Linked DNA regions of Homo sapiens: regions 2, 3, 4 and 5 are each linked to region 1. The links come from fine-mapping of genetic effects on gene expression. A gene starts in region 1. Each other region holds a variant in brackets. All regions are shown on one strand. Distances are from middle to middle.

Region 1 (5,124 bases):
AGACCAGCCTGACCAACACAGAGAAACCCCATCTCTACTAAAAATACAAAATTAGCCGGGCATGGTGGTGCATGCCTGTTATCCCAGCTACTCGGGAGGCTGAGGCAGGAGAATCGCTTGAACCCGGGAGGTGGAGGTTGTGGTGAGCCAAGATCACGCCATTGCACTCCAGCCTAGGCAACAAGAGCAAACTCCGTCCCAAAAAAAAAAAAAAAAAAAAAAAAGAAAGAAGTATACTTCTAATGTCCAAATAATACATAATATAGTCATTTTGAAAATCTGCACATCATAACAGGATTCCTCATAGCAGGATATTTTCATGCTCAGTCTTGTATTTCAGCACAAACTAAAGAGTTACACATCACAGTATGTCTGTAGTATCATGGGCTTCCCAGATATGGCTGGACTTCAGCAACAGTAGCCTTTTAAAAACAAATTCCATGGCCCCAATATCATTTAGTTACTTTTATTTAAACTTACCAGCAACTGAACACTATCTTTCCCTAAAAGATGAAGAATCTTGTAAATGCTTGCAAAGATTAAGGGATAAGTGTAACTCCTCAGTCTCTCTGTCCATTCCCAAGTCAAATAACCATAATTAGTAACATTAAGGAGTAAATGTCCAATAATATTGAAACCTATTTCCGTGTTTTTTTTTTTTTTAAGATGGGGTCTCACTCTCTTGCCCAGGCTGGTCTCAAACTTGGGCTCAAGTGGTCCTGCCTCTACAGGTGCACACCACTTCACCTGGCAAAATCTATTTTCATTTCCATTTATAAAACAATATTTTATTTTGTGGCAGTCTTAAAACAGCATTTTATACTGGATATTTGCATTAAAAATTCAATTGGCCAACTAAACTCTTAACTTCTTCAAGGCAGTAATGTGTTTTTTACTTTCTCTGTATCCTCCAAGTGCTAAGTACTGTGGGAATGTATGCTAACGGCTGTGTCAAGTATATTAACATAAAAGAAAGATACAGGAGAAATATTTGTATAAAATAATGGTATACTTTGATGAGTTAAAATTATTTGGGGAAAATACGGAAAACTGAAAATATGTATAGTAGTCCCCCCTTATCTGTGGTTTCTCTTTCCATGTTTCAGTTGCCCAGAGTCAACCACTGTCTGAAAATATGAAGATATTTTGAGAGAGACCACATAAAAGTTCACATAACTTTTATTATAGTATTGTGTTATACTTGTTATATTTTAATACTGTTAATCTCTTACTGTACCTAATTTGTATAAACTTTATCATAAGCGTGTGTGTATTTTTTACATATATAAAAACAATATATATAGAGTTTGGTACTGTCTACAGTTTCAAGCATCCACTAGGGATTTTGGAAACTATCTACTGAAGACGAGGGAGCAAGGGGGACTACTCTAAAAGAAACTGAGCACAATTTCCAAGATGAATACACACTCATAGTCTGGAAAAGAAACCACAAAGGATATTTGAAAACCATGTGATGTGAAACTTCAAGAGACTGCCAGTATTCATCTGGAACAAAACTTGTCTGCACTAAAAAGCAGTTTAATATTCGTAAAGCTATGGTAAACAAGAGCAGATAAATATTTTCTCCAAGAAGATCTGAAAAACAGAACAAAACAGGTAATAGTGGCACAAAAGTCAGGCAGTTCCACTTGCAAAACTTAAAATCTGCTGCTCTGGTTGGCTCCTTGTAAGGCACAGTAGTGACCTCTGGTCCCTCCACACCATTCTTAAAGCCAACTTGGTTGGTTATACAAGCACCACAGCGTCATCACTGGGTGACTGCCACTCTTTTAGTTTAACCAACTTTTCTTGCAACTTATTGTGTAAAGATAATATTAAAATAAATACAAAAAAAAAAGAGTGGGTTAACTAAGGCCTTAGGCTAATTAATTAGGTCATACTATGTGTGTATCTAATGAAAGAAACCAGCTAACAAATTACTAATTTGGGAAGCAGCCCTTTGTATATGTGCAATATAAAATGGTCCTCTGTACATATATATTGATGATTACTATTATATATGCCAGGCACTGTGTTAATTTCTTCACATGCATCTCACTTAATCCTCCAAACAATATTATGGGATAGGTATTATTAGCCCCATTTTACAGACGAGCAAATTGAGGCCCAGAAATTAAACTGCCTTGTCCAAATAAAGTTGTAAATTACTTATCAGGATTCAAACCCGGGTCTGTGTGATGTCTCCAAAGTCCTGCTCTTGACCACAAATGGACAGCCTGTCGGCCAAATACAGAGTATTTTTTAAAAAATTGAATTTAGTTGCCAACATTTAAAAATCAGAATTTATATTAAAATCTGTGTTTCCAGCATTTCCCAGCATTTCAAAACTCAAGATCTGGCAACACAGAGCTCAACGGGCAACTGGCTGGTAATGAAATGGAGGGGGTTCCTTTTAGATGGGGGTAGGAGCTCTCCAGACAGTGTCCCCTCACTCACCCCCGCGGCGCCTGGCGCTCTTCTCCTGGGTGTTGAAGTACAAGGTAGACTTTCTCTTTCGCAGCTTTATCTTGCCGTGGGAGCGGTTCTGGAGACCATGCAAAGTGAGGCTGGCATCTCCGCCCCCCGGCTCCATTCCGCACTTGCTTAGGGGCCTCCTCATCCCTGGCCGCCACCTTCCTAAGGCGGAAGAAAGCTGCAGTAGCGCGCTGCTCGTCCATCCATTAAGTTTGGCCTTTGAGAGCAGTCGTCGCTCGCAAGCCCGGAAGTAACCGGGAACGGGCAACTTCGTAGCTCCCACCCGACGTGGTGGCCTCCTTGCGGTTTCCTTTCGCCGTTTCCGAACCGAGGGATTGCTACTCGCCTTTGGCTTGGCGGTCTCTGTGCTCGGGGGTCCGAAAACTGCTGGAAGGCCCCCGGTCTCTGGAGGGGAGCAGGCGGTAGCGAGTTTAGTGACGTGGAGCAGGCGCAGAACAGTCGGAGGTACCTGAGTGGTTATTAAAAACGGTAACGGTAATTGTAGACGTCAGTGTTGGTGTTAACATTTCAGGTTCGTTGCTCTCACAAAAAATGCCTGTTCAACGAGGTAGGCAGGGTAGGGATGATTTAGCTTGTTGTACAGATGTGGAAACAGGCCGAATGGTTCCTATTTTTTTTGTTGTTGTTGCTGTTGTTAGGTTTTTTTTTTGTTTTTGTTTTTGTTTTTTTTTTTGAGACGGAGTTTCGCTCTTGTAGTCCAGGCTGGAGTGCAGTGGCGCAATCTGGGCTCACTGCAACTTCTGCCTCCCGGGTTCCAGTGATTTTCCTGCCTCAGCTCCCAAGTAGCTGGGACTACAGGCGCGCCACCACGCCTGGCCAATTTTTGTGTTTTTTTGTAGAGACGGGGTTTCACCATATTGGCCTGGCTGGTCTGGAACTCCTGACCTCGTGATCCGCCCGCCTCGGCCTCCCAAAGTGTTGGGATTACAGGCGTGAGCCACCGCGTGCGGCCCACTCCTCTTGTTAAAAGTAAAACCAGGCCGGGCGCGGTGGCTCACGCCTGTATTCCCAGTACTTTGGGAGGCCAAGACGGGCGGATCAGGAGGTCAGAGGATCGAGACCATCCTGGCTAACACGGTGAAACCCCGTCTCTACAAAAAATACAAAAAATTAGCCGGGTGTGGTGACACGCGCCTGTAGTCCCAGCTTCTCGGGAGGCTGAGGTAGGAGAATGGCGTTAACCGAGGAGGCGGAGCTTGCAGTGAGCCGAGATTGCGCCATTGCACTCCAGCCTGGGCGACAGAGCGAGACTCCGTCTCAAAAAAAAAAAAAAAAAGAAAAAGTATGCATTTAAAACCATTGAGAACATTCTGTAATAGAAAAGGTTTTAGTTTTGTCTTATACCCTTCCCTAATTCACTTCCTGTACTCCTTATGTATTTATATTCTTGTTTTAATTAGTAACATATTATAAAAATATTGTTCACTCCAGTGCAAAGTAGTGACATAACATCTTTTAAAAGGACATTGTACTAAGTGATGGCTTTGCTTTCCATTTTTGTATGCAGATTTGAAGAGATTTCCTGGGTGTGGAGTGTGACTTTCCAAAACCAGCTTTTCCTTGAGCTGTATTTGTTGCAGCAATGTTTAGGAGATTGACTTTTGCACAACTGCTTTTTGCCACTGTCCTTGGAATTGCTGGAGGAGTATATATTTTTCAACCAGTATTTGAACAGTATGCCAAAGATCAGAAGGAATTAAAAGAAAAGATGCAGTTGGTACAAGAATCAGAAGAGAAGAAAAGTTAATACTACATGGAGTTAGGCCTGGCGCAGTGGCTCACGCCTGTAATCCCAGCACTTTGGGAGGCCGAGGCGGGTGGATCAGGTGGTCAGGAGTTCAAGACCAGCCTGACCAACATGGTGAAACCCTGTCTCTACTGAAAATACAAAAATCAGCCAGGCTTGGTGGCATGCGCCTGTAATCCCAGCTACTTGGGAGGCTGAGGCAGGAGCATCACTTGAACCTGGGAGGCAGAGGTGGCAGTGAGTCAAGATCACGCTGCTGCACTCCAGCCTGGGTGACAGAGCGAGACTCCATCTAAAAAAACAAAAAGCAAAAAAACCCACAAATACCTCATGGAGATGAACTGTAATAATTGCTTAAAGTTCCATTTAATTATGTTAACTCTAATCTAGCAAAAACATAGATGTACTTAAAAATAAATCATGGATAATGATTTTTTAACCTAACACTGTTAATTTTAATGTTTATTGTATATTTGTCATTTTATGTCTTTTTACCAGGACAGATAAGTAATTTCCTTTTAAACAAAAGTGAATATTTTAGGAATATTTTCTACTTGAGGTTTATTTTTCTAGGAATTCAGCATATGCAGTATCATGGGGTGCCAGTCTCAGTGTGTATATAATAATTGGGAAGGGTGTTTGCAATAGTGTTTGTAGATATGTGAACCAACTTAAACTACCTCAGGCAGAAATCCACTCCGTTACCCTGCAGTTAGATTGGTTTAATATATTTTGGCAGTCATTCAATCCCAGCCGTTTTTCATCTCAGGCAGTGTGGAGGAGTAGTTGAGAGTTGGGATGGCTCAGATCAAATTGAGGTTTTAGAGAAGGTAGATGTTGTTTGAGAGGATGGCAGATATGACACAGATGTTTTTTAATCC
Region 2 (5,132 bases), 56 kb after region 1:
AGGATAATGCTTATTTGGCTGACATGTGAGGTAAAGTCGTTCCCCACATTATCTAGTGCACTGTGTAATTTTTGTCCATTCACATCTGTCACTTGTCCTTATGTGTGCCTGTACACTCACATTCTGACTTTAGTCCTTAGCTCAGATGCCCCTGTGTGAAGTTTTTCTGATTCCCTCCTTAGACATTGTGGGCTCCTTCTTCTCCCTCTTGTGCTATCTCCCCAGCCCTCCCATCTCCCCAACGGCTTGTGCATACTTCTGTTACAGTTCTTCTTCTTCTTCTTTTTTTCTTTGAGACAGAGTTTTACTCTTGTCGCCCAGGCTGGAGTGCAATGTGCGATCTCGGCTGGCTGCAACCTCCGCCTCCTGGGTTCAAATGTTTCTCCTGCCTCAGCCTCCCAAGTAGCTGGGATTACAGGCATGCGCCGCCACGCCCGGCTAATTTTGTATTTTTAGTAGAGATGGGGTTTCACCATGTTGGTCAGGCTGGTCTTGAACTCTCAACCCCAGGTGATCCGCCCACCTCGGCCTCCCAAAGTGCTAGGATTACAGGCATGAGCCACCATGCCGGGCCCTATAGTTCTTGTTTCCATGCATTTTCCTTGGGCATTTCCACAAACAGCTTACCTATTAGACTGTTGCTCTTCTAGAGCCACATTCTTGGTGCTTAACATAGTGGCACATCCACAATTCTTGTTTGTTAGATGTTTAATTGATGTGCTCATGAGCTACTGCTTAAATGACTGAATGAATTTCAGTCATTTAAACCAGGCTCTCTCCCTCCTCAGTGGCATCAAGCTTTACTAGTATATCTTTGGATCATTGGTGGAGGCCAATTTACTTATCAAACCTCATTTAAAATTATTAACAGATTTTGGAGAGGTATATGTATGCTATTCTGCATTTAACTTCTGTTATATTTGAAGTACATTTAATATATATTTTTTGGGAAATACTTTCCTATGTGTTGTGAACACTACAACCCTTTCCCACATCCTCCTATGCTTCGTAATTTTGATAATTTCACATTTGTCATTTGAGCCAAGTTTATTTTTCTCTAAAACAGCTTAAAATTTCTGTTAAAAAACAGATCCCCATCTATTCTAGCTTATAGAGGTTGGAAAAATGTTTAAAATCTAAACGTGATTAAAGGTTTGTAGAAATCACAAAATAAAGATTTTGGCTGGGCACAGTGGCTCACACCCAAAGTAATCCCAGTACTTTGGGAGGCCGAGGCCGGCTGATCACCTAAGGTCAAGAGTTTGAGACCAGCCTGGGCAACATGGCGAAACCCTGTCTATACTAAAAATAGAAAAATTAACCGGATGTGGTGGTGCATGCCTGTACTCCCAACTACTTGGGAGGCTGAGGCATGAGAATCACCTGAATCCAGAGGCAGAGGTTGCAATGAGCCAAGATCGGACCACTGCACTCCAACTCCAGCCTGGGTGACAGAGTGAGACTCTTGTCTCAAAAAACAAAAACAAACAAACAAACAGAAAAAATAACCCTGGCTATAGTTGAGAGACTCTTTGGAGTCAGGTGTGGACTAAATGTTGTATTCTCTTACGATGTTTAATGTGGTTTTTTGTAAGACTAAAGACTCCAGAATTCTGTTACAGAGTTGTTTGCTGATTTGTTTCTTTTGTGTAAGTGCCCTTTTCATTTCTAGATCATGGTTACTCTAACATCGTTCCTCAAATATATGCATTTCATGGAGTTAAATGAAATACAGACTTTAGGACAATTAAACAGACTAATGGAAAAACTTGGCAAAGTTTTTTTAAGTGGGTCCTAAATTATTAGCTAGAATTCAGAAATTTGGGTTCGGCTTCTTTAATTTTAAAATTAAGAAGAGACATGGGCTGGCCTCTTTAACATACAGTGTTGAATTACAGAATGCATAAACGTTATTCCTTGTCTCTCTTCAGATACTTGGCATTTTTATAATCTAGTGCCCTACTTTCTAGGTATTAAATGGGGGAACCCAAGTGCTAGTAGTTAAAATTAAATATAGTACTGTGTTCAAAAGAAAATTCGGATGATAGCTAATGCATTTTCGATGTTTCTCTAGAGGGTGAAACACCATTTCTGTTTAAAGCATTCTACTATAATTCTTCCTCTAGTGACTGCATCTCAAGTAACTTTTTTTTTTAAGCCCAAGACGGGAGCGACTTATATAAATGTAATATGGCACATTTGAAGACTGGTTTTGGGTAAGGTCACCTCAAGGACCTGGCACCTATTAGGTATTTCACTTTTTAGCCATTCAAATATTTATTAATTACCCTGAGAACTACCTCCCTTTGCTCTCCCCTACCCCCTGGCGAATGCAAAAGGAAGAAACAGAATTACTTTGAAAGAGAAATTCTAGGTAGAAAGTATGAGAAAAGAGCAGAAACCAGGAAAGTGAGAGAAGAAGCTAGAAGAAAGGAAAGAAAAATATCAAAGGCGGAATAAATATAAAAGCTGGTAAATTAACAGATTAAGGGAAAAAAGTAGCAGTCTCCTTGATACATGCTGAAACAAAATGTGATAAAGTTGACACCCATTCATAATACTCGTACTTAGCAAACTAGGATAGATGAACTTCCTTGACCTGATAAAAATATGTACCAAAAATCTACAGCAAATGTCATTCTTAACAGTGAAATGTTAGAATCAAGACATGACGAGACTGGGCTGGGCGTGGTGGCTCACACCTATAATCCCAGCACTTTAGAAGGCTGAGGCAGGTGGGTGGCTTGAGCCCAGGAGTTCCAGACCAGCCTGGACAAGGGAGGCTGGGGCGGGACAGTCACCTGAGCCTGGGAGGCCGAGGCTGCAGTGAGCTGTGATTGTGCCATTGCACTCCAGCCTGGACAACAGAGTGAGATCTTGTCTCAAAAAAAAACAAAAAAAAAGAAAAAAAAGAGATAAGACTACCTGTATCACCATGTCTATTCACTGTTTTTTTGTTTTGTTTTGTTCTTACCTATTTTTTTTTTTT[C/TC]TTTGAGTCAGAGTCTCACTCTGTTGCCCAGGCTGGAGTGCAGTGGCGTGATCTCGGCTCACTGCAAGCTCTGCCTCCCGGGTTCACGCCATTCTCCTGCCTCAGCCTCCCGAGTACCTGAGACTACAGGTGCCTACCACCACGCCCGGCTAATTTTTTTGTATTTTGAGTAGAGACGAGGTTTCACTGTGTTAGCCAGGATGGTCTGGATCTCCTGACATTGTGATTCGCCCACCTTGGCCTCCCAAATTGCTAGGATTACATGCATGAGCCACCGCGCCTGGCCGACTTTTTATAATTAGACTAAAAGGTAAGATTAGAAAGGAAGAAGTAATTTATTTTTACCTAATATGTTTAACAGATTGCTGGAATTAGTATGGCTATGTAAGAAATAGAAGATACATGTTTAAAAGTTATCACAGTAGTGACAAAAACAAAGTATCAATAAGTTGAAAGATGTACAATATCTTCATGAAAAGAGTTTATTGAAAACTTTTTTTTTTTTTTTTGGGATGGAGTCTCGCCCTGTCACCCAGGCCAGAGTGCAATTGTGCCATTTTGGCTCACTGCAACCTCTGTCTCCTGAGTTCAAGCAATTCTTCTGCCTCAGCCTCCCGAGTAGCTGGGATTACAGGTGCATGCCACCATGCCCAGCTAATTTTGTATCTTTAGTAGAGATGGGATTGCACCATGTTGGCCAGGCTGGTTTTGAACTCCTGACCTCATGATCCACCCACCTCGGCCTTCCAAAGTGCTGGGATTACAGGCATGAGCCACTGTGCCTGGCCCGAAAACTTTTCAAAAAGATGCTTTTTTTTTTTTTTTTTTTTTTTTTTGAGATGCAGTGAGTGATCTCGGCTCACTGCAACCTCCGCCTCCTGGGTTCAAGCTATTCTTCTACCTTAGCCTCCCAAGTAGCTGGGACTACGGGCACACGCCCCCAAGCCTAGCTAACTTTTTTTTTTTTTTTTGGTATTTTTAGGAGAGATGGGGTTTCACCGTGTTGGCCAGGCTGGTCTTGAACTCCTGATCTCATAATCTGGCTGCCTTGGCTTCCCAAAGTGCTGGGATTACAGGTGTAAGCCACAGTACCCAGCCAAAAATATTCTTTTCTTAGAGTTTATTTATTTATTATTTTTATTTTTTTTTGAGACAGAGTCTAACTCTGTCACCCAGGCTGGAGTGCAGTGGCACGATCATGGCTCACTGAAACCTCTGCTGCCCGGGTTCCAGCAATTCTCCCACCTCAGCCTCCTGAGTAGCTGGGATTACAGGTGCCTGCCACCGCGCCTGGCTAATTTTTATATTTTAGTAGAGATGGGGGTTTCACCATCTTGGCCAGGCTGGTTTTGAACTCCTGACCTCGTGATCCACCCGCCTCGGCCTCCCAAAGTGCTGGGATTACAGGCCACCATGAGCCACCATGCCTGGCCGAGTTTTAGTTTTTAGAGCAGTTTTAGGTTCACAGTAATACTGAGTAGAAAGTACAGTTTCCATATATTCCCTTCCCTCCCAAACCCCCCAACATGCATAGCCTCCCCCACTATCAACATCCCATACCAGAGTGGTACGTTTGTTACACATGATGAACCTCTATTGACACATTATCATCCAAAGTCCATAGTTTAGATTGGAGTTCACTCTTGGTGTTGTACATTCTATGGGTATGTATACAAATGTATAATGACATCTATCTATGTTATAGTGTCACACAAAATAGTTTCACTGCCCTAAAAATCGTCTGTTCTCTGCCTATTCATCTCTTTCACTTCCCCCACTCCAACCCCTAATAACCACTGATCTTTGTACTATCTCCACAGTTTAGCCTTTCCTAGAATGCCACATAGTTGGAATCATACAGATTGGCTTCTTTCAGTTAGTAATATGCATTTAAGGTTCTTCCATGTTTTTTCATGGCTTGATAGCTCATTTCTTTTTAGTGCTGAATAATTTTCCATTGTCTGAATGTACCACAGTTTATTTATCCATTCATCTACTGACGAACATCTTGTTGCTTCTGAGTTCTGGCAATTATGAATAAAGCTGCTATAATAAATATCAGTGTGCAGGTTTTTGTGTGGACATGAGTTCTCCCTTCATTTGGGTAAATACCAAAGAATGTGATTGGATTGTACGGTAAGAG
Region 3 (5,132 bases), 180 kb before region 1:
CTTGCAGTGAGCCGAGATAGCGCCACTGCACTCCAGCCTGGGCGAAAGAGCGAGACTCCGCCTCAAAAAAAAAAAAAAAAAGAAAGAAAGAAATCCTGCCAGGCACAGTGGCTCACGCCTGTAATCCCAGCACTTTGGGAGGCCGAGGTGGGCGGATCATGAGGTCAGGAGATCGAGACCATCTTGGCCAATACGGTGAAACCCCGTCCCTACTAAAAATACAAAAATTAGCTGGGCTTCGTGGTGCATGCCCATAGTGCCAGCTACTCAGGAGGCTGAGGCAGGAGAATCGCTTGAACCCCGGAGGTGGAGGTTGCAGTGAGCCGAGATCGCGCCACTGCACTCCAGCCTGGTGAGAGAGTGAGACTCCGTCTGAAAAAACAACAACAAAAAAATCCTTTCTTACTCCAATATCATACAGGTATTTTTTTTTTTAAGTTTCCATTTTTTTTTTTTTTTTTTTTTGAGACTCAGTTTCACTCTTGTTGCTCAGGCTGGAGTGCAATGGCACGCTCTCAGCTCATGGCAACCTCTGCCTCCTGGGTTCAAGCAATTCTCCTGCCTCAGCCTCCCGAGTAGCTGGGATTACAGACATGTGCCACCATGCCTGGCTAATTTTGTATTTTTAGTAGAAACGAGCTTTCTCTATGTTCGTCAGGCTGGTCTTGAACTCCCAACCTCAGGTGATCCGCCCACCTCGGCCTTCCAAAGTGGTGGGATTACAGGCATGAGCCACCACGCCCGGCCAACTTGACAAGTTTTTAAGGTATAATTCATTCAGAGTCTAAAAGTTTAGTAGGATCATGGTAGTCAGGAGAATAATTTCACTGCAGAGGTGTGTATGTGTTTAGCAAAGTGATTGCTAACAGATTTTCCTGAAATCCCCGACAGCACAAAGTATCCTTTACATTATTATCTTTCATGCATATAAAATCTCACATATTTCTGTATAGTGGGAGAACCTGGACTTTAACATTTTATATGAAAGAAATGCATAAACCCTGTCTTTAGAAGATAATGTAAGATTTGGAAACAATATGGTAAAAGTAGGAATAGAACAAAAGGGGGAAAATGACAAAAGAAATTTTTTTAAAAAAGTCCATGGGATTCGTGGGTTTCTCAGCTTAAAGGGACAAGGGAAAGCAAGTCTAGGATGACTCCCAGTATTCAAAGTTACCAGAAGCTTGAGATGATGAACTGCTAAGGTAGTGAGTGTGCCCTATTTTGGGGAAAAGATGGTTTTCTCTTCAAGTCTGTTGCTCCTTATCTTTCCTCAATGAATTTCTAAGGAGCATTGAAATTTGTGTGAAAGAAAGGCTTCCAAAAGTAAATAAGTTTAAAATCCAGGGTTTTGTATTATACTTTCAGATTTCCACAAAGGCCCAGTTTCTCTGTTTTTTTTTTAAAGTTAAAAAAAAGTTGAAAATCAAAAGCCCCAAGTGGGAAGTAATTTGTGTGTATCTAAATATTGTATACATTCACTGTTTTATCCCAGCAATTTATAAACTGGGTGTGCAGAAAGCAGCCTGGAGCAAAAACATTGTAATGGGAGTTAAGAGATCAGGATTTTAATGATGGTCTGCTACTAATCTATACGAAAATGGTTTGTGTATAGGTTTCAGATTCCTTAAATATGTAGAATAAGACTACATAATCTTCAAGCTTCTCTGCAGCACTTAAGTTCAGATTCTACTTAAGCACTTACGGAATGTGTCAGTGTAATTCCAATTTACCCTATTCCAGATTTGTAGCAAAGCATTTGTCAGATGAATCATAGGGTGGTTTCTCTTCAGTTTTCAAACTTTGGAGCAAAACCTATATAGGTGCTTTTGGCGGCCTTACAGTTAATAGGATTTGCAGGATACAATAGTTTTAGACAAGCTCCTGGTATGTGTTGTGAACAAACGTTTTCTGAAGAGGAATTTGGAGCAAAGCAACTATTTCAGGGAACAGTTTGCAAACTGGGGAGTTGAAGCCTTAGGTGTAAAACAAAGGTGCATTCCAGAGAACAAAGGGAGGGTTTGGGTTTTACAGCAAAAGTTTCTGCCCAGGTTCCCAGTCAGGTTCGTTTATACAAATGAACGATTGAACCGCACTTAGTTCTGATTGGTTGATACAGCTGAGCCCTGATTGGTTGAGGCAGGTGAGCCCTATAAGACCCAACACTCAACAGAGGTGTGGGTTTGGGGAGAACGCAGAGTCCATGTGTGACCTCTAGTAGGTAAATGACCACGTGTCTCTATTTTAAATTTAGACCCAGTTAGCCGCTCTGGATGTTGACGGATTGGCTCTTTCAGGTTCACATTTGTTCACAGTCTGTATGACCAAGAAATTTGCAAAACAGAACAACTAGCGCTAACTCTTAATAGCCTCAGTCAGAATAAACAGACAAGACACTGCACCAAGGGCGTATGGGCATTGCACCTGCTCCTCATGGGCTGCTTTCCCGAGCCTTATGCCCACAGCCCTCCTTAGCATTATCGCATTATGAGGCTGGAAGTGCTTTTTTTTTTCTTTCTTTCTTTTTCTTTTCTTTTTTTTTTTTTGAGACGGAGTTTCGCTCTTGTTTCCCAGGCTGGAGTGCAATGGCGCGATTTCGGCTCACTGCGACCCCTGCCTCCCGGGTTCAAGCGATTCTGCTGCCTCAGCCTCAGCCTCCAGAGTAGCTGAGATTACAGGCATGCACCACCACGCCCGGCTAATTTTGTATTTTTAGTAGAGGCGGGGTTTCTCCATGTTGGTCAGGCTGGTCTCGAACTCCCAACCTCAGGTGATCCGCCCGCCTCGGCCTCCCAAAGTTCTGGGATTACAGGCGTGAGC[T/C]AGCGCGCCCGACCCACAGAGTGCTTTTTTTTTTTTTTTTTTTTCTCAAGCAGAGGGTATGGGTCTACTTCTTTGAACATTCGCTCAGATCGTAAGGTAACCCCAAGAATCGGCATCACTCTCTGGTCTGGGCGCCTGGATAGTCACGCATGGAGTCCGCGAGGTGCTGGCGCCGGAGCACGCTGGGAACGCCGGGCTCCCGGCCGGCCTGACCCGGAAGGGCTGGCGCATGGTAACCCCAGCTTCCCTAGCAACCAAGCAGGCGCAAGAAGCAACCAGCCGCGCTATCCGCTCCCGTTGCTACCGGAATGCCTCTTCAGGTTAGCGATTACAGCTGGCAGCAGACGAAGACTGCGGTCTTTCTGTCTCTGCCCCTCAAAGGCGTGTGCGTCAGAGACACGGACGTGTTCTGCACGGAAAACTATCTGAAGGTAAGAATGCAAGTCTTGCCTGCCGGTCTCCGGGGGTGTGGTCCGAAGCTTCTGCAAGAGCGCAGCTGGGCACGAGCAACAGGCTCATCTTTGCCGATAAACGTCCTAAATTTTTAATCCTATTAAAAAAATGAATCCCATACAGGTAACACACCATCTGTAGACAGATAATCAGATCAGAGACTACTTTTATCCAGGGCTTCCTCATATGCCTTGCTAATCTTTCACTACCTGGCATAAATTTAGTGGGCCTTTTAGAAAGTTATTTTACCTTTTTCACGTGTTTCTTAATACGCGTGCTTAATTTGTGTAACTAACTTAGTTTCTGTTTTCACCCTTCTGCATAGGTCAACTTTCCTCCATTTTTATTTGAGGCATTTCTTTATGCTCCCATAGACGATGAGAGCAGCAAAGCAAAGATTGGGAATGACACCATTGTCTTCACCTTGTATAAAAAAGAAGCGGCCATGTGGGAGACCCTTTCTGTGACGGGTGGTAAGTTCTTTATTAAAAGATGTTCATCTGGTTGTACCTTTTCGGTTTCAGACCTTTTAAAAAATTTTATTTTGAAGCACCTATATTGTGTAGGGGAAGATAGATTTTTTTTTTTTAAGAGTCTTGCTCTGTCGCCCAGGCTGGAGTGCAGTGACATGATCTCGGCTTACTGCAACCTCTGCCCCCGGGGTTCAAGGGATTCTCCTACCTCAGCCTCTCAAGTAGCTGGGATTATAGGTGTCCGCCACCACGCCCGGCTAAATTTTTTTGTATTTTTGGTAGAGCGTTTTGCCATGTTGGCCAGGCTGGTCTCACACTCCTGACCGGTCATTAAGTGATCCACCCGCCTTGACCTCCCAAAGTGCTGGGATTACGGGTGCGAGCCACCACACCCGGCCAGATAGACTTTCCTTTTACTCTCCAAGGTTCAATAGCTGGGTCTATAAAATAAACTAACAACAGAAGGATTGACAGAAGAAAATGTATAGAAATTTATGAATTTTTAATATTAGTGCTTGAGGGCATCACAGGGAAAAAAGTGAATACCCCCCAAGCGGTGAGATTTGAGAGTTTAGGGACTGTCTTAATAGGGGAAGGGGGAGGGGATGTAGGCCGCTTAGAACAGGAAATGATTTTTAGGAAAGATGAATGGATCCTTAGAAGAATAGATAGGAAATGTGATAGCTTTTAACAAAATTTGTCAGAGTGTGGTGTTGACTTGTAGTTTCCTTTTCTGGGAGAATAGTCAATATTCCCTGGTTAATGAAACTCCAGGGGAAGAGATTTATGACACTTGGGTTCCTTTGGAAAATCTGTTTTTAGGCAGATAAGAGGAGTTCTGGCAAAACCTCTCCCTGCATTTGCTGCTTTCAAGTGCCTTTAACTCAAAATGATCGCTATATGAAAGCAGCATATTTTGGGGTGGCATATCCTGAACTCATTCAATTGCTGTTTTAGAAAAAAAAAAAGGCTTATGAGCCTAATTTAAGTGATACAGTGCTTCAGCAGCCATTTAAATAAACCTAAAGGCTGAATTAGTCAAAGTTAGAGCACATTAAGCAGAAGATGTGGGCTCATGTCTTAAGGGTAAGCCCTCCTGATATATAGCCTTTATTGAGTACTTAACTTTGCGTTAGGTGTTAACATGCCTGTAATTCCATGAAACAACCTGTCACTTAGGTATTATTACCCTTTTTTTACAGGGGAGGCTACTGACATATGGAAAGTTTGAGTAATTGGCAAAATCACACAGCTAGTGACTGGCAGCCTGGAACTGGAGCCTTAGCAGTTTCACTCTAGAGCAGATGTTCCCAACCCTGGCTACATATTTGAATCAGCTATGGAATTTTAAAATAATACTCTAATCCAGTGAAATCAGTTTCTGGG
Region 4 (5,000 bases), 62 kb before region 1:
CCAATTAATAACCCTACAGTGGCCTCCAGGTGTTCAGGTGAAAGGAAGAGTTGTGTGTCTCTCACTTCAAATCAAAAGCTAAAAATGATTAAGCTTATTTGAGGAAGGCATGTCAAAAGCTAAGTCTCTTGGGCCAGATAGTTAGCCAAGTTGTGAATGCAAAGGAAAAGTTCTTGAAGGAAATTAAAAGTCCTTCTTAGTGAACACATGAATGATAAGGAAGCCATATAGCCTTATTGCTGACATGGAGAAAATTTTAGTGGTCTTGGTAGAAGATTGAACCAGCCACAAAATTCCCTTAAGCCATAGCCTAATCCAGAACAAGTCCTTCCTAACTTGCTTCAAGTCTATGAAGGCTAAGAGTGGTTAAGAAGCTGTAGAAAGAAAGGCGGAAGCTAGCTGAGGTTGGTTCATGAGGTTTAAGGAAAGAAGCTATGTCCGTAACATAAAAGTGCAAGGTGAAGTAGCAAGTGCTGATGTAGAAGGCGCACCAAGTTATCCAGGAGATCTAACTGAGATAATGGATGAAGGTGGCTACCCCAACCAGCAGATTTTCAGTATAGATGACACAACTTTCTATTGGAAGAAGATGCCATCTAGGACTTTCCTAACTACAGAGAAGTCAATATCTGCTTCTAGGCTTCAAAGAACAAGCTCACTTTCTTGTTAGAGGCAAATGTAGCTGGTGACTTTAAGTTGAAGCCAGTGTTTACTTACCATGCCTTGAGAAATCCTAGGACCCTTAAAAAATATGCTACATCTACTCTGCCTGTGCTCTGTAAATGGAACAACAAAGCCTAGGTGACAGCCATGTGTTTACAACATGGTTTACTGAATATTTTAAGCTCAGTGTTGAGACCTGCTGCTCAGAACAAAAAGATTCCTTTCAAAATACTAGACATTGTATAGCAATACCTGGTCAATCACCGAAGGGCTCTGATGGAGATGTACAAGGAGATTCATGTTACTTTGTTTCCTGCTAACACAACATCCAGTCTGTAGTCCATGGATCAAAGAGTAGTTTTGACTTTCAGGTTGTATTATTTAATAAATACATTTTGTAAGGCTGTAGCTGCTATAGATAGTGATTGTTCTGATGGATCTGGGCAATGTGTGTGAATTGAAAATCTTCAGGAAAGGATTCACCATTCTAGATGCCTTTAAGAACAATTGTGATTTGTGGGAAAAGGTCAAAATATCAACATTAACAGGAGTTTGGAAGAAGTTGATTTCAACCTTCATGACTTTGAGTGGTTCAAGACTTTAATGGAGGAAGGAACTGCAGATGTGGTAGAAGTAGCAAGAGAATTAGAATTAGAAGTGGATCCTGGTCGGGTGTGGTGGCTCATGCCTATAATCCCAGCACTTTGGGAGGCTGAGGTGGGCGGATCATGAGGTCAGGAGATCGAGACCATCCTGGCTCACACGGTGAAATCCCATCTCTACTAAAAATACAAACAATTAGCTGGGCGTGGTGGCAGGCGCCTGTAGTCCCAGCTACTCGGGAGGCTGAGGCAGGAGAATGGCGTGAACCTGGGAGGCGGAGCTTGCAGTGAGCCAAGATCGCGCCACTGCACTCTAGCCTGGGCAACAGAGCGAGACTCTGTCTCAAAAAAAAAAAAAAAAGAAGTGGATCCTGAAAATGTGATCCAATTGTTGTAATCTCATGATAAACTTGAACAGATAAGGAGTTGCTTCTTATGGATGAGCAAAGAAAGTAGTTTCTTGAGATGCAATCTACTCTTGGTGAAGATGCTGTGAATATTATTGAAATGACAACAGAGGATTTAGAATATTACACAAACTTAGTTAATAAAGCAGTGGCAGGGTTTGAGAAGATTGACTCCAATTTTGAAAGTTGTTCTACTGTGGGCAAAGTGCTATCAAACAGCATTGCATGCTACAGAGAAATCTTTCATGAAAGGAGAGTCAATCCATGTGGGAAACTTCAGTGTTGTCATACTTCAAGAAATTGCCCCAGCTACTCCACCCTTCAGCAGCTACCACAGTGGTCAGTCAGCAGCCATCATCTTTGAAGTAAGACTCTCCACCAGCAAAAATATTACAATTCACTGAAGGCTCAGATGATCACTAGCACTTTTTAGCAATAATGTATTTTTAAATTAAGATATGTACAGTTTTTTAGACATGATGTTATTGCACACTTAATAGATTACAGCATAGTGTAAACCTAACTTTTACATGGACAGGGAAACCAAAAAATTCATGTGACTTGCTTTATTACATTGGTTTGGAACTGAACTTGCAGATATCTGAGATATGCCTGTACTCTGGTTCCAATCTGGTAAAATGGAATCTGTATTATGTATACTTCACATGGGATTTGATGCACACATTATTTATATAGAGAAATAGGACTCCTGAACAATTACTGCATACACTTATGTTCATATTTAAATTACTTCATTAACTTTTTAAAAAAATTACAGTAAAATGCATACAGAACATTTCCCCTCAGGAGAAAAAAGTGGATGTGTCAAGGCCAGAAATAGAAGAGATTATAGCTGTTAATTTTTTTAAGCCTACACGTTGATTATTACTACTCTCATTTGAAAAGTGATTCTCATCTTTTTTGTGTCAGAGATCCTTTTGAGAATCTGAAAGCTATGGACAGTTTCTTCCAAGAAATGCATTTACTTGCATATGTTAAAGAAAATTTTCTTTTTTTTCTTTTTCTTTATGAGACAGAGTCTCGCACTGTTGCCCAGGCTGGAGTGCAGTGGCGCAATGATCTCAGCTCACTGTAACCTCCGCCTCCCCGGTTCAAGTCTCAGCCTCCTGTGTAGCTTGGATTACAGGTGCCTGCCACTATGCCCAGCTATTT[T/A]TTTTTTATTTTTTATTTTTAGTAGAGACGGGGGTTTCACCATGTTGGCCACTCTGGTCTCGAACTCCTGACCTCCTGATCAGTCTGCCTCGGCCTCCCAAAGTGCTGTGATTACAAGCATGAGCCACTGTGCCCGGCCTAATTTTTTTGTTTTTTGAGATGGTGTCTTGCTCTGTTGCCCAGGCTGGAGTGCAGTGGCGGGATCTCGGCTCGCTGCAAGCTCCGCCTCCCGGGTTCACGCCATTCTCCTGCCTCAGCCTCCCAAGTAGCTGGGACTACAGGTGCCCACCACCACGCTCGGCTAATTTTTTGTATTTTTAGTAGAGACGGGGTTTCACTGTGTTAGCCAGGATGGTCTTGATCTCCTGACCTCGTGGTCTGTCCGCCTTGGCCTCCCAAAGTGCTGAGATTACAGGCGTGAGCCGCCGCGCCCGGCCATTTTAATAGCGACGGGATTTCACTATGTTGGTCAGGCTGGTCTTGAACTCCTGACCTCGTGGTCTGCCTGCCTCAGCCGCTCAAAGTGCTGGGATTACAGGCATGAGTCACCGCGCCTGGCCCCAGCACCCCGGCCGAGTACTGTGGCGGAATCTCACCTCTAAATTAATTAATTTTCTGTTAGAGGGTATATAATGCTGAAAAATATTTTTTTTTCCCTGTTCTTTGCAGGACTTAAATTACATAAGAAATGCATGATCGACCGGGCGCGGTAGCTCATGCCTATAATCCCAGCACTTTGGGTGGCCGAGGCGGGCGGCTTACGGGGTCAGGAGATCAAGACCATCCTGGCTAACACGGTGAAACCCCGTCTGTACTAAAAATACAAAAAATTAGCCGGGCGTGGTGGTGGGCGCCTGTAGTCCCAGCTACTTGGGAGCCTGAGGCAGGAGGATGGCGTGAACCCGGGAGGCGGAGCTTGCAGTGAGCCGAGACGGCGCCACTGCACTCCAGCCTGGGCGACAGAGGGGGACTCCGTCTCAAAACAAAACAAAACAAAAAAAAAACAAAAAGAAATGCATGTTCATGATAGGGAAAAAAAAATAGTAAGCAAAAGAAATTTAAAATGGTCTATAATTCTTTTATCTAGAAATAATTACTGTTGATATTTGGTGTACTTTGCTCATAAATTTATATGTTATATTATTTTTAACTTTTCTTAATATTTTATGCTCTTTTCTTTTTTTTTTTTTTTAAGACAGAGTTTCACTCTTGTTGCCCAAGCTGTAGTGCAATGGCATGATCTCGGCTCACTGCAACCTTCGCCTCCTGGGTTCAAGCAATTCTCCTGCCTCAGCCTCTGGAGTAGCTGGGATTACAGGCGCGCACCACCACACCTGGCTAATTTTTTGTATTTTTAGTAGAAACGGGGTTTCACCGTGTTAGCCAGGCTGGTCTCAAACTCCTGACCTCAGGTGATTCACCTGCATTGGCCTCCCAAACTGCTGGGATTACAGGTTTGAGCCACTGTGCCCGGCCTTTATGCTCTTTTTCATTAAAAATATATTGTGAAGTCATCATTCTGTTTGTACACATTTTCTTTGAGGAGGTTCTTATAAAATATATCTTCTGTAGTGACATTTAGTTTTTCTGTGTTTTGAGTTCTTTCTTTTTTAAAAAAAATTATTGGTAGAACTGGTCTCGCTATGTTGCCTAGGCTGGTTTTGAACTCCTGGCTTTAAGTGATTCTCACACATTGGCCTACCAAAGTCCTGGGATTACAAGCATGAGCCACTGTGCCTGGACTGCCCTCTCTCTGACTTTTTTTTGAGACATAGTCACACTCTCTTGTCCAGGCTGGAGTGCAGTGGCATGATCATGGCTCACTGCAGCCTCAACTCCTAGGCTCAAGTAATCCTCCTGCCTCAGCTTTCTGAGTAGCTAGTACTATAGGCACATACCACCATGCCCAAATAATTTTTTAATTTTTATTTTTGTAGAGACAGGGTCTTGCTGTGTTGCCCAGGCTGGTCTTGAACTTGTAGCGTCAAGCAGTCCTCCAGCCTTGGCCTCCCAAAAGTGCTAGGGTGACAGGTATGAGTCACTGCACCCCGCCTGAGTCCTTGTTTTTTATAGTTTATGTTTTCTTATAAGGCATTTAGACACACACACACACACACACACACACACACACGTACATATACATACATACTTTCAT
Region 5 (5,132 bases), 160 kb before region 1:
TATTGTGATACCTTGTGATTGTGTGAGTTAATACTTAATAAACTCCCCTTTATATATATCTATCTATACTATTAGTTATGTCTCTCTAAAGAACCCTGACTAATATACACGAGTATAAAAATATCCCTTTGAAATCTTGCTTTCAATTGTTTTGGGCTTGTATCTAGAAGTGGATATAGCAGATCATATGGTAATGGTAATTCTGTTTTTTTTTTTTTTTTTCCTGAGACGGAGTCTCACTCTGTTGCCCAGGCTGGAGTGCAGTGGTGCGATCTCGGCTCACTGCAAGCTCCGCCTCCCAGGTTCAAGCCATTCTCCTGCCTCAGCCTCCCCAGTAGCTGGGACTACAGGTGCTCACCACCACGCCTGGCTAATTTTTTTTGTATTTTTAGTAGAGACAGGGTTTCACCATGTTAGCCAGGATGATCTCGATCTCCTGACCTCGTGATTCACCTGTCTCAGCCTCCCAAAGTGCTGGGATTACAGGCATGAGCCACCGCGCCCGGCCTATTTTTAATTTTTTGAGGAATTGCCATACTGTATTCCATGGCATTTGGACCATTTTATGTTTTCATCACAGTGTGCAAGGATTCCGGTTTCTCCCATTCTCACTAACACTTGTTATTTTGGTTTTTTGAGAGTAGCCATCCTAATGGGTGTGAAGTGGTATCTCATTGTGGTTTTGATGTGCTCTTCAGTGCCATTTTAATTTGAACTATATCTCTGAAACCCACTCATTCCCTTTTTTCCTAAATCTTTGAGATATTGGTAAGTATAACATTTATTCTTGCTTGCTCTTTTCCTCTCTTCTCCCATTATTTGGCCTATGCTTTCTCTTAAAAAAAAAAAAAAAAAAAAAAAAAAAAAAAAAAAAAAGCTTTATTGGCTGGGTGTGATGGCTCATGCCTGTAATCCCAGCACTTTGGGAGGCTGAGCAGGTGGACTGCTTGAGGTCAGGAATCCGAGACCAGCCTGGCCCATCTCTACTAAAAATACAAAAAATTAGCCGTGTGTGGTGGTGTGCACTTGTAATCCCAGCTACTCCGGAGGCTGAGGCAGGAGAATCACTTGAACCCAGAAGACAGAGGTTGCAGTGGGCCAAGATTGTGCCACTGTATTCCAGCCTGGGCGACAGAGTGAGACTCCATTTCAAAAACAAAAACAAACCCCAGCTTTATTGAGATATAATTTATATACCATAAAGTTCATTCTTTTAAAGTGTAGAATTCATTGTTTCTTAGTATGTATACAAGTTATTCAGCCATCACCACTATGTAATTCTGGAACATTTCATAACCATAAAAAGAGACCTATTGGCCAGGCATGGTGGCTCACACCTGTAATCCCAGCACTTTGGGAGGCTGAGGGGGGCGGATCACAAGGTCAAGAGTTTGAGACCAGCCTGGCCAATATGGTGAATTCCCATCACTATTAAAAATACAAAAATTAGCCAGGTGTGGTGGTGTGCATCTGTAGTCCCAGCTACTCGGAAGGCTGAGGCAGGAGAATTGCTTGAACCTGGGAGGCAGAGGTTGCATTGAGCCGAGATTGAGCCACTGCACTACAGCCTAAGCGACAGAGCAAAACTCTGTCTCAAAATAAATAAATAAATAAATAAATAAAGAGCCCTATTTTCATTAGCAGTCACTCCCTACTTTTCCCTCCACCATAGCCCCTGGAGGAGACAGAATCTACTGTCTGTTTCTATAGATTTGTTTACTCTAGACATTTCACATACAGTGTGTGGTCTTTGGATGTGATGCCCATCAGTCTTTATGGGAGGCTTTCTTTCACTTAGCAAAATGTATATAGGGCTTATACATATTGTAGCATGTATAAGTTTTTCATTCCTTTTTATGGATGAATAATATGGCATAGTATGGATGGCACCACATTTTGTTTATCCATTCATCAGTTGGTGAAAATTTAGGTTCTCTTCACCTTTTGGCTATTACAAATAGTACTACTATGACCATTCATGTACTTCTAGTATTTAAGTATCTGTTTTTTGTTTTGTTTTGTTTTGTTTTTGAGATGGAATCTTGCTCTGTTGCCCAGGCTGGAGTGCAATGGCATGATCTCAGCTCACTGCAACCTCTCCTTCCTGGGTTCAAGTGATTCTCCTGCCTCAGCCTCCTGAGTAGCTGGGATTACAGGCAAGCACCACCATGCCCAGCTCGTTTTTTGTATTTTTTGGTAGAGAGGGGGTTTTGCCATGTTAGCCAGGCTGGTCTCTAACTCTTGACCTCAGGTGATCCACCCACCTCGGCCTCCCAAAGTGCTGAGATTGCATGCATGAGCCACCACGCCTGGCCTTGAGTGTCTGTTTTTAATTCTTTCATGTATATACTTAGGAATAGAATTGCTGGGTCATTTGTAATTCTGTTTAGCTTTTTGGGGAATCATCAAATAGTTTTCCACAATGGCTATACTATTTTTCATTCCCACCAACAATGTATGAT[GATT/T]CTAATTTTTTTACATCTTTGCCAACACTTCTGTTGTTGCCAGATGGAAAGTCTTGACTATGAGTTGTCCCAGTTCTTGGCACATTAAACAAAGAATTGAACAAAATGCACAAACAAAGCAATAAAAGAACAAAACAACGAAAGTGCAGGTTTACTGAAGCAAAAGTACACTCCACAGAGTGTAAGCGGGCTCAAGCAAGCAGCTCAAGAGCCCCGATTGCAATGTTCTTTCAGGTTTGTACTAAACTAAAAGAATTTGGTAGCATTCCTGGGTACCGTTTAGAGGCTTCCCATTGGTTGCACCCTACACAAATGAAGGCTTGGCCCATTACTAATCAGAGGCTGAAGTGAAGTCTTGGCCCATAACTAATTAGCAATAGGGGAGAGAGGGGGTTTTGTAGAGGGAGGGGCCTCTGGCCCTTGGCATGGAGAGGTGGGGTTTTTCTTTTGGCCCAATTCCAATAAGCCAGCTGCTAGTTGGCCTCAGGCTCCCTGTTCCAGACCCTGTTCTGCCTCATTTCCCCCTGAGAGACTTGATCCCAATAAATCTTTATGGGAGGCAGAGGAACTGATGGTCTGTCTTCTGTAATTGCTTCGTGCGGATTAGGGCAGAGTCCCTACATATTGGGGACCACAGAACTCTTGCCCTGCTCTGTCTAGTGGAGAGAGGGTGACTTCTTGAAGGCTAGGGCTGGCATCGTCACCTGGAACTGGCTAGAAGCCCTGCTGCATGATCATTTGAAGCTTAATGTTCTCTAGGTGAGAAGAAATAAATCTGGTTACATGATTAAACAAAAATGGTCCAAAAATCAATGTAAGTACAAGTATTAATAATGTGCTGGCTAGGGGAAGGAGCCATGAAACCCAGCTTAGTATCCTTGACCAGGGGCCCCATGACTTGGACAACTGTTGTCATATTTTAGAGGCCTGGTCAGCTAATTTTGGGGCAGCATCCCTTACTAATCCTGATTGGTTGATATGAAAACAGTGCTTTCCCTCTAGGAAAAGATATAAGCCACTTTTTTCAGCAGTTAGGAGATCCAGTCCCTGTATTAGTCCATTCTCACACTGCTAATGAAGACATACCCAAGATCGGGTAATTTATAAAGGAAAGAGTTTTCATTGAGTCACAGTTCCACATGGCTAAGGAGGCCTCAGGAAACTACCAATCATGGCAGAAGACACCTCTTAACAGGGTGGCAGGAGAGAGAATGAGCACCAGCAGGAGAAATGCCATAAAACCTTATAAAACCATTAGATCTTGTGAGACTCACTCATTATCATGAGAACATCATGGGGGAAACTGCCCCCATGATTCATTTACCTCCACCTGGTCCCACCCTTGACACGTGGGGATTATTACAATCCAAGGTGAGATTTGGGTGGGGATACAGAGCCCAACCTTATCAGTCCTCTTCTGTTTTGTAAAGTGACTGCCAAAGAGTCTACCTGATTTTGTAAGGCATACTTTGGGCAGTGTCTTCCAAGCCGTCTGAAAGCTCCTTGGACAAGCGTTGGTAATAGGATAGAGAAGTTGGAAGCCCACTATTTCCTGTTTCTACGCCTGCAGTTATTCGTAACCCTACCTGAAAGGGTATGAGTTGGGTGGCTTGTTTGTGCCTGATGGTTGCAGTTAAAGGTATAATGAGAGACTGGTTATTGGGAGCTATATTGATCTCGGGGGCTAAGTAAACAAGTGTGCAGTGCAAACAATTGGTTCCAGTCCATTTGGCTAGTAAACGTAAGTAGGAACTAGTCCCACACAGGAAAAAGGCTGCTTGTTTTTCAAGACAAAAATTGTTCTCTATGATGAACATGTAGGTTAGCTTGTTGTTTTCCTTTTCCCAAGTGGTTAAGGTCCCTGCTACAGTGGCCCTGGTTAAAGGCTGGAGGGGGCCTTGGGTATCGGGGGATCCCACCCCCAGTATTTCAACGTAGGTTCTTTCTGTTTTCCATAAGTGTTGGCCAGCTGAGAAATAAAGAGAGACAGTATAAAGAGAGGAATTTTACAGCTGGGCCATCGGGGGTGACATCACATATCGGTAGGACTGTGATGCCTGCTTGAGCCTCAAACCAGCAAGTTTTTATTAAGGGTTTCAAAAAGGGGGTGTAAGAACAGGGAGTAGATACAAAGATCATATGCTTCAAAGGGCAACAAGCAGAACTACTAATAAGGGTGTAACAAAGATCACATACTTCTGAGGGAACAGGACAAAGGGCAAAAGCAGAACTACTGACAAGGGTCCAACAAAGATCACAAGGCAAAGGGCAAAAGCAGAACTACTGATAAGGGTCTATGTTCAGCAGTGCACATATTATCTTGATAAACATCTTAAACAACAGAACACAGGATTCAAGAGTAGAGAACTGGTCTGACCACAAATTTACGAGGGTGGAGTTTTTCCCCCACCCTAGTAAGCCTGAGGGTTCTGCAGGAGACCAGGGCGTATCTCAGTCCTTATCTCAACTGCACAAGACAGACATTCCCAGAGCCCAGAGCGGCCATTTATAGACCTCCGCCTAGGAACACATTCCTTTCCCAGGGTATTAATATTAATATTCCTTGCTAGGAAAAGAATTTAGCGATATGTCTCCTACTTGCATGTCCATTTATAGGCTCTCTGCAAGAAGAAAAATGTGACTCTTTTTGCCTGACCCCACAGACAG

Which allele goes with the higher level. Positions count from the first base shown, and alleles are read on the strand shown. Sizes are in standard deviations (SD) of each study's normalised expression. Not every link is listed here.
In carriers of allele TC in region 2, the expression in CD4 T cells of the gene that starts at base 2,649 in region 1 tends to be higher than with C alone (moderate effect, 0.50 SD a copy in CEDAR).

The links.
Region 2: its variant is fine-mapped to the expression of PIGB in CD4 T cells (CEDAR, PIP 0.95).
Region 3: its variant is fine-mapped to the expression of PIGB in whole blood (TOPMed, PIP above 0.99).
Region 4: its variant is fine-mapped to the expression of PIGB in whole blood (TOPMed, PIP 0.95).
Region 5: its variant is fine-mapped to the expression of PIGB in whole blood (INTERVAL, PIP 0.96).

What each region holds. Positions count from the first base shown.
Region 1 is chr15:55,316,747-55,321,870 of GRCh38, reverse strand. It overlaps PIGB (phosphatidylinositol glycan anchor biosynthesis class B), which reads right to left and starts at 2,649. Exons shown (of 12, transcript NM_004855.5): 1 at 2,458-2,649; 2 at 1,461-1,596; 3 at 481-598. The coding sequence starts at 2,620. It overlaps PIGBOS1 (PIGB opposite strand 1), which reads left to right and starts at 2,748. Exons shown (of 2, transcript NM_001308421.2): 1 at 2,748-3,007; 2 at 4,004-4,687. The coding sequence starts at 4,079. The coding sequence ends at 4,243. It also overlaps a transcript of RAB27A not described here. RefSeq lists enhancers at 2,390-2,469, 2,540-2,619, 2,680-2,769, 2,820-2,889.
Region 2 is chr15:55,260,403-55,265,534 of GRCh38, reverse strand. All of the region lies in intron 2 of RAB27A (RAB27A, member RAS oncogene family), which reads left to right. Among named protein-coding and RNA genes, the nearest start is that of RAB27A, 27 kb to the left of the region's middle. The variant C/TC (reference allele first, on the strand shown) is at 2,990.
Region 3 is chr15:55,496,326-55,501,457 of GRCh38, reverse strand. DNAAF4 (dynein axonemal assembly factor 4) reads left to right here. Exons shown (of 10, transcript NM_130810.4): 2 at 2,874-3,251; 3 at 3,599-3,746. The coding sequence starts at 3,129. DNAAF4-CCPG1 (DNAAF4-CCPG1 readthrough (NMD candidate)) reads left to right here and starts at 2,874. Exons shown (of 16, transcript NR_037923.1): 1 at 2,874-3,251; 2 at 3,599-3,746. The variant T/C (reference allele first, on the strand shown) is at 2,821.
Region 4 is chr15:55,379,138-55,384,137 of GRCh38, reverse strand. All of the region lies in intron 3 of CCPG1 (cell cycle progression 1), which reads left to right. All of the region lies in intron 10 of DNAAF4-CCPG1 (DNAAF4-CCPG1 readthrough (NMD candidate)), which reads left to right. Among named protein-coding and RNA genes, the nearest start is that of MIR628, 8.6 kb to the right of the region's middle. RefSeq lists a silencer at 1,373-1,552. The variant T/A (reference allele first, on the strand shown) is at 2,846.
Region 5 is chr15:55,479,578-55,484,709 of GRCh38, reverse strand. All of the region lies in intron 4 of DNAAF4 (dynein axonemal assembly factor 4), which reads left to right. All of the region lies in intron 3 of DNAAF4-CCPG1 (DNAAF4-CCPG1 readthrough (NMD candidate)), which reads left to right. Among named protein-coding and RNA genes, the nearest start is that of DNAAF4-CCPG1, 16 kb to the left of the region's middle. The variant GATT/T (reference allele first, on the strand shown) is at 2,463.